3 separate regions of the Homo sapiens genome follow, and all the other regions are linked to region 3. The links come from fine-mapping of genetic effects on gene expression. A gene starts in region 3. Each other region holds a variant in brackets. All regions are shown on one strand. Distances are from middle to middle. Region 1 overlaps TMEM38B (transmembrane protein 38B). Region 2 has its middle 160 kb from the start of TMEM38B. Region 3 holds the start of TMEM38B (transmembrane protein 38B).

The links. PIP is the estimated chance that this variant, and not a neighbour inherited with it, causes the effect. A credible set is the group of variants that fine-mapping cannot tell apart.
Region 1: its variant is the best candidate, but not a certain one, in a credible set for the expression of TMEM38B in thyroid (GTEx, PIP 0.60).
Region 2: its variant is the best candidate, but not a certain one, in a credible set for the expression of TMEM38B in esophagus mucosa (GTEx, PIP 0.62).

The regions. Positions count from the first base shown.
Region 1 is chr9:105,728,684-105,732,801 of GRCh38, forward strand. All of the region lies in intron 4 of TMEM38B (transmembrane protein 38B), which reads left to right. Among named protein-coding and RNA genes, the nearest start is that of TMEM38B, 36 kb to the left of the region's middle. The variant G/A (reference allele first, on the strand shown) is at 1,747.
Region 2 is chr9:105,855,275-105,859,392 of GRCh38, forward strand. No RefSeq gene overlaps it. Among named protein-coding and RNA genes, the nearest start is that of TMEM38B, 160 kb to the left of the region's middle. The variant A/G (reference allele first, on the strand shown) is at 1,822.
Region 3 is chr9:105,692,371-105,696,488 of GRCh38, forward strand. It overlaps TMEM38B (transmembrane protein 38B), which reads left to right and starts at 2,171. Exons shown (of 6, transcript NM_018112.3): 1 at 2,171-2,402. The coding sequence starts at 2,291. RefSeq lists a silencer at 2,005-2,274.

The sequences.
Region 1 (4,118 bases), 36 kb after region 3:
CTAATTTACACTCCCACCAACAGTGTTCCTATTTCTCCACATCCTCTCCAGCATCTGTTGTTTCTTGACTTTTTAATGATCGCCCTTCTGACTGGCGTGAGATGGTATCTCATTGTGGTTTTGATTTGCATTTCTCTCATGACCAGTGATAATGAACATTTTTTCATATGTCTGTTGGCTGCATTAATGTCTTCTTTTGAGAAGGGTCTGTTCATATCCTTTGCCCACTTTTTGATGGAGTTGTTTGATTTTTTTCTTGTAAATTTGTTTAAGTTCTTTGTAGATTCTGGATATTAGCACTTTGTCAGATGAGTAGATTGCAAAAATTTTCTCCCGTTCTGTAGGTTGCCTGTTCACTCTGATGGTAGTTGCTTTTGCTGTGCAGAAGCTCTTTAGTTTAATTAGATCCCATTTGTCAATTTTGGCTTTTGTTGCCATTGCTTTTGGTGTTTTAGTCATGAAGTCTTTGCCCATGCCTATGTCCTGAATGGCATTGCCTAGGTTTTCTTCCAGGGATTTTATGGTTTTAGGTCTAACATTTCAGTCTTTAATCCATCTTGAATTAATTTTTGTATAAGGTGTAAGGAAGGGATCCGGTTTCAGCTTTCTACATATGGCTAGTCAGTTTTCCCAGCACCATTTATTAAATAGGGAATCCTTTCTCCATTGCTTGTTTTTCTCAGGTTTGTCAAAGATCAGATGGTTGTAGCTGTGTAGTGTTATCTCTAAGGTCTCTGTTCTGTTCCATTGGTCTACATCTCTGTTTTGGTACCAGTACCATGCTATTTTGGTTACTGTAGCCTTGTAGTATAGTTTGAAGTCAGGTAGCGTGATGCCTCCAGCTTTGTTCTTTTTGCTTAGGGTTTTCTTGGCTCTGCAGGCTCTTTTTTGTTTCCATATAAACTTTAAAGTAGTTTTTTCCAATTCTGTGAAGAAAGTCATTGGTAGCTTGATGGGGATGTCATTGACTCTATAAATTACCTTGGGCAGTATGGCCATTTTCACAATATTGATTCTTCCTACCCATGAGCAAGGAATGTTCTTTCATTTGTTTGTGTCCTCTTTTATTTTGTTGAGCAGTGGTTTGTAGTTCTCCTTGAAGAGGTCCTTCACATCCCTTGTAAGTTGGATTCCTAGGTATTTTATTCTCTTTGTAGTAATTGTGAATGGGAGTTCACTCATGATTTGGCTCTCGGTCTGTTCTTGGTGTACAGGAATGCTTGTGATTTTTGCACATTGATTTTGTATCCTGAAAATTTGCTGAAGTTGCTTATCAGTTTAAGGAGATTTTAGGCTGAGACGATGGGGTTTTCTAAATATACAATCATGTCATCTGAAAACAGAGACAATTTGAATTCCTCTCTTCCTATTTGAATACGCTTTATTTCTTTCTCTTTCCTTTTTGCCCTGGCCAGACCTTCCAATACTATGTTGAATAGGAGTGGTGAGAGAGGGCATCCTTGTCTTGTGCCGGTTTTCAAAGGGAATGCGTCCAGTTTTTGCCCATTCAGTATGATACTGGCTGTGGGTTTGTCATAAATAGCTCTTATTATTTTGAGATACGTTTCAGCAATACCTAGTTTATTGAGAGTTTTTAGCATGAAAGGCTGTTGAATTTTTTTGAAGGCCTTTTCTGCATCTATTGAGATAATCATGTGGTTTTTTCGTTGGTCCTGTTTGGATTACGTTTATTGATTTGCGTATGTTGAACCAGCCTTGCATCCCAAGGATGAAGCCAACTTGATC[G/A]TGGTGGATAAACTTTTTGATGTGCTGCTGGATTTGGTTTGCCAGTATTTTATTGAGGATTTTTCCATCCATGTTCATCAGGGATATTGGCCTAAAATTCTCTTTATTCGTTGTTGCCAGGCTTTGGTATCAGGATGATGCTGGCCTCATAAAATGAGTTAGGGAGGATTCCCTCTTTTTCTGTTGATTAGAATAGTTTCAGAAGGAATGGTACTAGCTCCTCTTTATACCTCCTGTAGAATTTGGCTGTGAATCCATCTGGTCCTGGACTTTTTTTGGTTGGTAAGCTATTAATTATTGCCTCAATTTCAGAGCCTGTTATTGGTCTATTCAGAGATTCAACTTCTTCCTGGTTTAGTCTTGGGAGGGTGTATGTGTCCAGGAATTTATCCATTTCTGCTAGATTTTCTAGTTTATTTGAGTAGAGGTGTTTATAGTATTCTCTGATGGTAATTTGTATTTCTGTGGGATCGGTGTTGGTATCCCCTTTATCATTTTTTATTGCGTCTATTTGATTCTTCTCTCTTTTCTTCTTTATTAGTCTTGCTAGCCATCTATCTATTTTGTTATCTTTTCAAAAAACCAGCTCCTGGATTCATTGATTTTTTGAAGGGTTTTTTGTGTCTCTATCTCCTTCAGTTCTGCATTGATCTTAGTTATTTCTTGCCTTCTGCTAGCTTTTGAATGTGTTTGCTCTTGCTTCTCTAATTCTTTTAATTGTGATCTTAGGGTGTTGATTTTAGGTCTTTCCTGCTTTCTCTTGTGGGCATTTAGTGCTATAAATTTCCCTCTACACACCACTTTAAATGTGCCCCAGAGATTCTGGTACGTTGTAGCTTTGTTCTCATTGGTTTCAAAGAACATCTTTATTATTATTATTATTATTATTATTATACTTTAAGTTCTAGGGTACATGCGCACAAAGTGCAGGTTTGTTACATATGTATACATGTGTCATGTTGGTGTGCTGCACCCATTAACTCGTCATTTATATTAGGTATTTCTCTTAATGCTATCCCTTCCCCCTCCCTCTCACCCCACGACAGGCCCTGGTCTGTGAGGTTCCCCACCCTGTGTCCAAGTGTTCTCATTGTTCAACTTCCACTTATGAGTGAGAACATGTAGTGTTTGGTTTTCTGTCCTTGTGATAGTTTGCTCAGGATGATGGTTTCTAGCTTCATCCATGGCCCTACAAAGGACATGAACTCATCCTTTTTTATGGCTGCATAGTATTCCATGGTGTATATGTGCCACATTTTCTTAATCCAGTCTATCATTGTTGGATATTTGGGTTGGTTCCAAGTCTTTGCTATTGTGATTAGTGCAGCAATAAACATACGTGTGTATGTGTCTTTATAGCAGCATGATTTATAATCCTTTAGGTATATACCCAGTAATGGGATCGCTGGGTTAAATGGTATTTCTAGTTCTAGATCCCTGAGGAATCGCCACACTGTCTTCCACAATGGTTGAACTAGTTTACAGTCCCACCAACAGTGTAAAAGTGTTCCTATTTCTCCACATCCTCTCCAGCACCTGTTGTTTCCTGACTTTTTAATGATCACCATTCTAACTGGCATGAGATGGTATCTCATTGTGTTTTTGATTTGCATTTCTCTCATGACCAGTAGTGATGAGCATTTTTTCATATGTCTGTTGGCTGCAAAAAAGTCTTCTTTTGAGAAGTGTCTGTTCATATCCTTCACCCACTTTTCGATGGGGTTGTTTGATTTTTTTCTTGTAAATTTGTTTAAGTTCTTTGTAGATTCTGGATATTAGCACTTTGTCAGATGGGTAGATTGCAAAAATTTTCTCCCATTCTGTAGGTTGCCTGTTCACTCTGATGGTAGTTTCTTTTGCTGTGCAGAAGCTCTTGAGTTTAATTAGATCCCATTTGTCAATTTTGGCTTTTGTTGCCATTGCTTTTGGTGTTTTAGTCATGAAGTCTTTGCCCATGCCTTTGTCCTGAATGGTATTGCCTAGGTTTTCTTCCAGGGATTTTATGGTTTTAGGTCTAACATTTCAGTCTTTAATCCATCTTGAATTAATTTTTGTATAAGGTGTAAGGAAGGGATGCAGTTTCTGTTTTCTACATGTGGCTAGCCAGTTTTCCCAGCACCATTTATTAAATAGGGAATCCTTTCCCCATTTCTTGTTTTTCTCAGATTTGTCAAAGATCAGATGGTTTTATATGTGTGGTGTTATTTCTGAGGCCTCTGTTCTGTTCCATTGGTCTGTATCTCTGTTTTGGTACCAGTACCATGCTATTTTGGTTACTGTAGCCTTGTAGTATAGTTTGAAGTCAGGTAGCGTGATGCCTCCAGCTTTGTTCTTTTTGCTTAGGATTGTCTTGGCAGCGTGGGCTCTTTTTT
Region 2 (4,118 bases), 160 kb after region 3:
CCGAGCCATAGTTTTCTCACTCAGAATTTGGGAATAATAATTTCTACATCCTTGCAGCTGTGGTGAGGATTTTCAAAAGTGCATGGTTATGAAATTTAGCATAGTAGCAGGCATATTGCAGGTCTTCCAAGACTCTTAATTAATTTTGAGAGAAGGTGACTTGCTCAATGTCACATATCTTATTGAACCAAGGAATGCCCTTGGGCACACAGTGTCTAACTATTGTTAGATTTATGGCCTGGTCTCATGTTAAATATGGAAAGGCAGGCTGTTGCTTGGATATGCAATGCTTGACCCAGTTCCCTCTAAGCTTCATATTCATCCACTTCGGAAATTCCTAGATTGGCTTTTCCTCACCAAGTAGTAATATCCTTTTAGCTTTCTGTGATAGCTTTCTTTTCTTTTATTTAATTTTTAAATACTTATGACCACTTTAAAAATACAGAATTTAAAGATCCAAATCTGACACCCTTCCCCCATGTAGCAGTTGGCAAACACACTAAAAATATGCTAAAAATTTTATGTGTGTACTTTTTTTTTTATCCCCAAAGAAATAATAAAAAAATTATACTTGCAAAACATGTAATGTGGGTCTTGAATCAAGTAATCAAGTTACTTCTGCCAGATGCCTCTGACAGCACCCAAGAGGGTCTGGACTCCTGGGGTTACTTTCCCTGTGTGCACCCATCTGCACGTCTGCACTTTGTGAGTGCGCAGGGTATAAGCTGTTTGTGGCCCACCCTTCAGTGCACAATTCCTGGTGTTAAAAGGCAATACTAAGGACATTTTTTTTTGTTTGTTTCAAACAGCATATTTTTGCCTCAACAGTCTGATGCTGAAGCAGACCTCCTCTGGAAAAGCAAGTCTGTTTCTTGTGCAATTCCTCCCCACTGCACCCCTCCCTTTCCAACCCTAGCCATATGCTTTTCCTATCTAACTCCCATCTCTTGGATGCCATACGGTTTGGCAGAATCTTGGCATAGGGCTCAGAGATCTGAAATTGTGTGGGGTGTGGTGTCTGACCACTCTCCCTTTGTCTGTCCGGCTTGACTTACTGCAGTAATATGGCTATGCATGGTAATATGGGCCTGATTTCCCCCTCAGGTAGTTGGAATCAATTGCATCTCATTGATATTGATATGCTCACCCTGATTTAAACATTGCCTTTTAATTTAAAGAATTTTATTGGGAAGGTGTTCTTAGCATATGTTCCCAAATGACATTATTCTTCTGTAGCTGTGATTCATTGGGAACGGATTCAGCAGGAGCTGGATCATATGCCCCTTTGGATGTGGTTTCTCTACCTACAAGTTGTAGTGCCACAGTGCCTGGCACCATTGATGAATGGCTGCTCATGACTTATTTAATATAGAAGATATACTTGCATTGTGATGGCCTCTGTACTGCAAACACTCCAAGGTCAGTTGTGGAAAACTGCAGAAAGGGCACAATATCCACTGCCATCTTGTTTCCCTGACCTCTGCCTTCCCCAGCAACTTCTCACTAGGTTCCCTGGCACCTTCCTCCCCTAGCCTACCTGCTAAAGCCTGTTCATTGCTAACCAAACTTTGGACGTATGCACTGCCAGGAGCTAGCCCAAGGCACTTATGTAGCTCTTTATCCATCCATTCATTCATTAATCCATCCATTGATTCACTCACTCATGAAACATTTACTGAATCCTTGCTCCCAGGTAAGTTCTCCTCTAGGCCCTGTGAAGGAGATAGGAAAGTAAGGGAAAATTGCTTGACAGTAAGATAAGAATCAAAGAAGAGATTTTAACTCAGCCGGGGCTAAGCAGAGAGGGGGTCATAGGGGAAC[A/G]GTTCCTGGGAAGCAAACTCATGGAACTGAGTCTCCTTGCTTAACCAGCCCTTCTGCCTCCTTTCACACCACAGGACTGGTTCCTGCCTTGTACTTTACTAGTTACCTTCCTAATTCTCCATTCTTATCTTTGGGTGGATGTCTCTTCCTGAACCTCAGTGAATTTGTTGGAACCCAGATATTCTATTTAACTCCCTTTGTCCCTCTCCTGCATGATGGAATGTACTCAGCCCCCTGTCCATTGGCAGGGACCTTCCAGAGCCAGGTATACCACTTATTGGCTCCTGAGCTCTTTGGCCTCTGAATCTTGGACCTTACTGTTGGGTCATCCTCCCAAATAGTCAGAATACCCAACACAGGTATGTGGAGAACCAGACTTTCAGATCTGGGCTGGGGGCCACATACTTGTCCGGAAACAGGTTAGCATCCCCAGACCCTTCTCTCTGTTCCCACTTCTGGTTGTTTTTCTCCTCCCAGCTCAGAGTCCACATTTAACAATTGCCCCCATCCTGCACATCCTGCACCAAGATTCTAGCATGCCTTACATCTGAGCACATCTGAACTGTAAGTATAACTTACCTATATGTTGAATGAACTTGGTAGAATACAATCCAAGAATAACTTTATTGACACCCCCACTGCCACTGCTCTTCAAACCAGTTCTGTTGGGAACCCCTTTTCTATTACTAGAAAGCATTTCAAAAAAAGATAGAAGATTTTTTTTGTAATAGCAGGCATTAGAATAGTCTCATTTTTTGAGTATTAAAAAGCTCAATATGATTTAAATTAAAACTTCACTCTTTTACCAGATTCTATTTGTCCTCTACTGCCTAGCTTAGGACAGACCCAGGCTCAGCTTCCTGCCTTGGAGAAGGGAGATGTGGTCTGTTTTTGACTCTGTCTCCTGGCTTTTGCTCCCTCCTCTCTACTCACTTACTGCTTCTAGATAAGTGAGGAGGAAAAGCGAGAAGGAGATCTTATTTGACAACTGCTGGCATAATGGGACCTGATGCTTTGTGTGTGGTGATGGCCCACATGCTCAAGGAGATTCTATGAGTCCTTCAAGCCACATTCCTGGTCCTCCCAGAGATCTCTGACACTGCACAGCTCTCCCAAGTTGTTGATACATTCTCTAGCTGGCTGTCATAATCTGCTTCTACCTCCCTGAGCTCTTGCTCAGAGGAAACATCTCCAGACTTCCCACTGAAATCTCTTCAGTCTGTGGGCAATCTTCCTTTGCAGGGGTTTTTTCAAGATGACTGCAGCTTAGCAACTTTTGGTGAAGTTACCTTAACCCATAGGGAAACCTACACCCCTGCCTTTCCTTCTGAGGAAGTGGAGCTTGCTTGCACTGTGGCTGTCCTTCTCCACTCTGCAGTCATAGGCAGCTCCCTGGGGGCTGTGGTGAGGCAAAGTACACACCCTATGACCCTGCCATGGAGAGCAAAAGAGGATGCCACACATTTCCTGCCAGGCAGACAACAAAGAAACTCTTACTTTGACTCTGAAAGCTTGTTTAGGATGAACTAAGAGATCCAGGTCTCACTTGTGGCCACCTTTCAGCTTTGAGCTTTAGCCAAAATTCTAAGACATCAACACAATCGCCATTTAGCAAAGACACAGTGTGAGGTGTTTTATTAGGAAAATGTACCAGACAGGAATAGTCTAGCCTTGGAGAAACTTGTACTATATTGATTCATGAGCTGAGATGCCCTTACTGCTCAGCAAAGCACACACAGCCATGGCTAATGCTGTAATGGGCCCTGTTTTCCCCTTGATTGGTATGAGTCTCTTCCAGCACATTTTTAGCCATTGGATCTGTAGGAAAACCAGTGAAGAGCAGGAATTGAATGGAAAGATTGTTAGGTGGACTCAAGTCATACCTGCTGTGCACTGTGGGCCATAAGCATGCAATAAGGAGGAAAAAGGCATATTGATAAAAGCTGGTCATGGTGACAGGAAACATGTGTGCCATCAGTGAACAAGACATCAATGAGTATGACTCACTCCTCCCCCACCTGAGCCTCAGCCTGTGATGGTAGTGAATATGTATATGTATACATGCAAGAATGAAGGACAGAGTTCATTAAGAGTATTAAAGTGTGTAAAAGAGTGGATTAAAAAGTTGTGAGTGTTAAGAAGGTGTTATTTCAAGAAAGAGAAATCCCACTGGAAGAGAATTTGAGTCTGTGAGGTATGCATGTGTATGTGAGAGGTAAGTGAGGAAAAGGTGGAGAGAAAGAGAAAGTGATAAAAAAAGAAAAAAGAGAGATAAAAAAGAAAGAAAGAGAGATTTA
Region 3 (4,118 bases):
CAACAATTTTCAAATTATCTTTAGAGTCTGAGATAATTAATTCCTTTCTATTGGAATTATTCTGTTTAAGCAAGTAAAGTGCTTGATTTACTTCCTTAAAAAAACCTCTGATGTTATTCATTTTGCCTTATTGATGTTAATAATGGATTTAATGGTACCCCAGAATAATACTGGTATAGACACACAATTCAGTAGTGTCTTAAAGATTACATCATATATTTTTTTAAGTCCAAAGACTAACCATATATTTTGCAAAATTTAAGACTGTTAAAATGTAAAATATTTAAAGAAATAATATCCAGGCTGGGTGTGAGTGGCTCACGCCTGTAATCCCAGCACTTTGGGAGGCCAAGGCGGGCGGATCATGAGGTCAGGAGTTCCAAACCATCCTGGCCAACATGGTGAAACCCCGTCTGTACTAAAAATACAAAAAAAACGTGGTGGCACGTGCCTTTAATCCCAGCTACTCGGGAGGCTGAGGCAGGAGAATCGCTTGAATCAGCGAGTTGGGGGTTGCAGTGAGCCGAGATCGCGCCACTGCACTCGTCTGGCAACAGAGCAAGATTACATATCAAAAAAAAAAAAAAAAAAAAAAAAAAAAAACAAGAAAAGAAAAAAAAGAAGTAATATCCAAACTCTGAGCCTAAATTCGCAAAACTAAAATTCCAAAAATAAGCGAATGTGTAAAAAGTATGGAAAGAACAGACTTAAACAGGAAAGTATAAATATTCACAGGTGGTTTTTTTCCCCTTAGTTTTGCTAGAAAGTGTGCTACAGGTCTAAAGACTTTTCTCTACGGGAAGTGCTTGCTTAGAAAACCACACGTGAAAAGTATTTGAACAAGTCTATTCTTTCTTGATAAGTAATGAAGTGTAGAGATTTACTACAATTTTCCTACGTTTTAAACACTTAGTGTTTAGGGCAGTATTTCTGACATCCAGCAAAATGCTGGTTACATAGTAGGCACGCAAAAAACATTTTGTTAAATGAATTAAAATTAATGAATACATATTCAGATAAAAAAAATTCTCCTTTTGCAGTGCATACACCCGTGAAGCTGTCACCTACCTAGCAGCTAATCACGTTTCTCCAATTTCCTGGTGCCAGCATAATCTGTTCACACATCAAATAAGTGTGCCAAGCTAGTTTTTTTTCTTACCCAAACCTATTCCTTCTTGTTTCCTATTTATCAGAATGCAACCACAATCCTCCTACTCACCCGTTCCTCATTTTATTTGACAAATGCTTCCTTTCCCGCCTGTACAGACTGACACTCACTGACGATATTCTGCTTCTACCCATGTTTCCCACAATTGGTCTCAATTTCTGCTGCCACAGCCTCCACTACCTTTTGCTTGGACCAGTGAATACCCTCTGATTTTCCGTTGTCAGTCGCTTCTCATCAATCTATTCTTAATCTTGTTGCTTCGTTGCACCTCTACTCCCTCACCTTCCACCAAACAACCCAGTTAGCGTAGAGATTAGGAGAAGAGATTCTGGCTCTGAGCTTAACATAGTGATTGATCAAGAATTTAACCTCTGGAGCCAAACTGCCTGGCTTTGTCTGCCATTCGAGGACTTTTCCCAACCTCATTTCTCACTTTGTAGTCAACCCAAAACACCTCCCTCCATCTCCCACCTAGCTTGTGTTTCTCACTTAACTTTTAAAGTCCAGCTCACATGTCACTTTACTCACTTCCCAGAATTGTAATCTTCGTTTCGAACTGCTCTCGCACGGCAGCTATACTTCTCAGTACCTGCTTTTGTACCATTATGTGCGTTTTTTCTCTTTTTATAAAAAATCTCTTTCAGGGAACGCATAGTTCTTGAGGTCAGGATATTATTGTTTTATTTTTATATCTCCAGTAAGTCACAGTGTGACTTGCACTGTGGTTGCTCGATAAATGTTAGGTGAATGACATCAATTTACAGAAATAAATCCAACTCTGAGCGTCTCCCCTTGAGGACCGTGTTTTGTTCATCTGCACGCTCTCCAGGTCCTGCACTGCGCCCAGGACCAAGAAGACGCTGGACCCTTACTAGGAGAACCGAGGCAAGAGCCGGCTGGAGCCGCGGGGAACCCGCTCGCCCCGCCCACCCGCCTAGCGCCGGTGAGCCTGCGGCTCCCGCGAAGCGCGGCCCCGCCCCCTCGGCGCCAGGGCGCACGCGCGGAGCTGGAGCCGGCGCGGAGGAGCGGGCGGCCGCGGCTGTGCCCTCTCCTACTCCTCACCGCGCGAGCGCGGGGAACCAGTAGCCGCGGCTGCTTCGGTTGCCGCGGTCGGTGGTCGTTATGGATTCTCCATGGGACGAGTTGGCTCTGGCCTTCTCCCGCACGTCCATGTTTCCCTTTTTTGACATCGCGCACTATCTAGTGTCAGTGATGGCGGTGAAACGTCAGCCGGGTGAGTGCGGGGCGCCGCGGGCCGGACCCCTCAGAGTGCTCCTGACGGCGAGGACCGTCTAAGTCGGGTGGGTCGGGTGGGTCGGGTGGGCGGCTGAGTGGCCGCTAGCCCAGACAGTTCGATGGTAGAGTTGGAGGGGCGCCAAGGGCCGGTTGGTCTGACTTACTGAGTGCAGATGGGGAAACAGCGTGGGGGAGGACGGAGGCTCTAGTACTCCTCAAAGGAGGCGTGACCTGGGGTCCGCGAGGCCGTAGCCTGGGCGAGCAGGGCCGACCTTGCCAACCGCCCGCAGAAGTCCCAGGACTGACAGAAGCTGCCGCAGCGTTTCGGAACCACAGATATCCGCGCCAGCCCAGGGCTTGGGCGGCCTCCTCGCGGTACCGCCACTCGCTCGCAGTGTCGCCACTCGCTCGCAGTGTCGCCACTCGCTCGCAGTGTTTGAAAGTCATGTGAGGAGACAGCAGGTTTCTGACTCAGTCTCTTGGAGTAATAGATGGTTGCGGACTACTCTCCAGTTATGAAAGTTGTACAAGCACTGAAACAAAAAGCCTCCTGTAGCCAGACCAGGATTCCCCTTCACGCAGTGTCCTAACACCCTGCCTAGCATGTGAGAAGCGAGTGCGTTCCCCTTTTCACAGTCACGACGGACACTGTACAAGCAAGAGTTACCTGGCGTAGTTTCACTATCTGCAGAATGGGGATATAGTCTTGAAACAGCATTTTGAGTTCTTTTAGCAATGCGATCAAGGGACAGTAGTTGTATTTTATTGGATTTTACACCAGGGTGCGTTTGCTCTAATACTGCTTTACTTTTGTAGTTATTCTACTGTGCTTTTAGTTGTATGGACCTCTTCTTTCTTTGAGGTCAGACATTTCTTTGCCTACTTTCTTTGTGTTCTTGCTGTCTTTCATCTGCCTTGCCCTACGGATAGTTGATGAGTGAGGTCTGGAGGATGATGCTGTATCTTTCTTATGGACTACTTACTGGTTTTAAAAAATCCTTAGACCTCAGAAATATTTTTCATTTATGTTGAAGTTTGTAGCTCAGTTTAAATCGTTGGTACAAATTTTGACCTGGATGAGGATGGTATTACTGCATTAAAGTAGAACACATTATCTGCATAAGATATTATTTCTTTGATTTGAAAAAAGTAAGTTTTGTTGCTACTACATGTTCAGAATTTGATTAAAAAAATTTTTTTTTGTATAGGCTGAATCAGATGTTCACATTGTGGTCCAGGGACCCATGGGATTCTCTGACACTGCCAGTTTAAAATTACTTTCGTAATAATATGCAGATGTTATCTTTTTCACTCTCATTTTTTCAGAAGTGTACAGTGGAGTTTTCCAGAGGCTACCTGAGTTGTGATACTGTAACAGAAGGAAGTAGATATGAGAATCTAACAGTTTTCTATTTGAAGCCAGACATTTGTTAGAATGTACACAGTGTGATTCTTCTCACTAAATGTTTTTTGTTTTGGAAAAGTTATTTTTCATAAAGAATACATTATCATTATTATTATTATTATTTTTGAGACGGAGTCTCTCTGTCGCCCAGGCTGAAGTGCAGTGGCGCGATCTCGGCTCAGTGCTGCAACCTGTGCCTCCTGGGTTTAAGCGATTCTCCTGCCTCAGCCTCCGGAGTAGCTGGGAGGCGCCTGCCACCAAGTTCGGCTAATTTTTGTATTTTTAGTAGTGGAGACGGGGTTTCGCCAT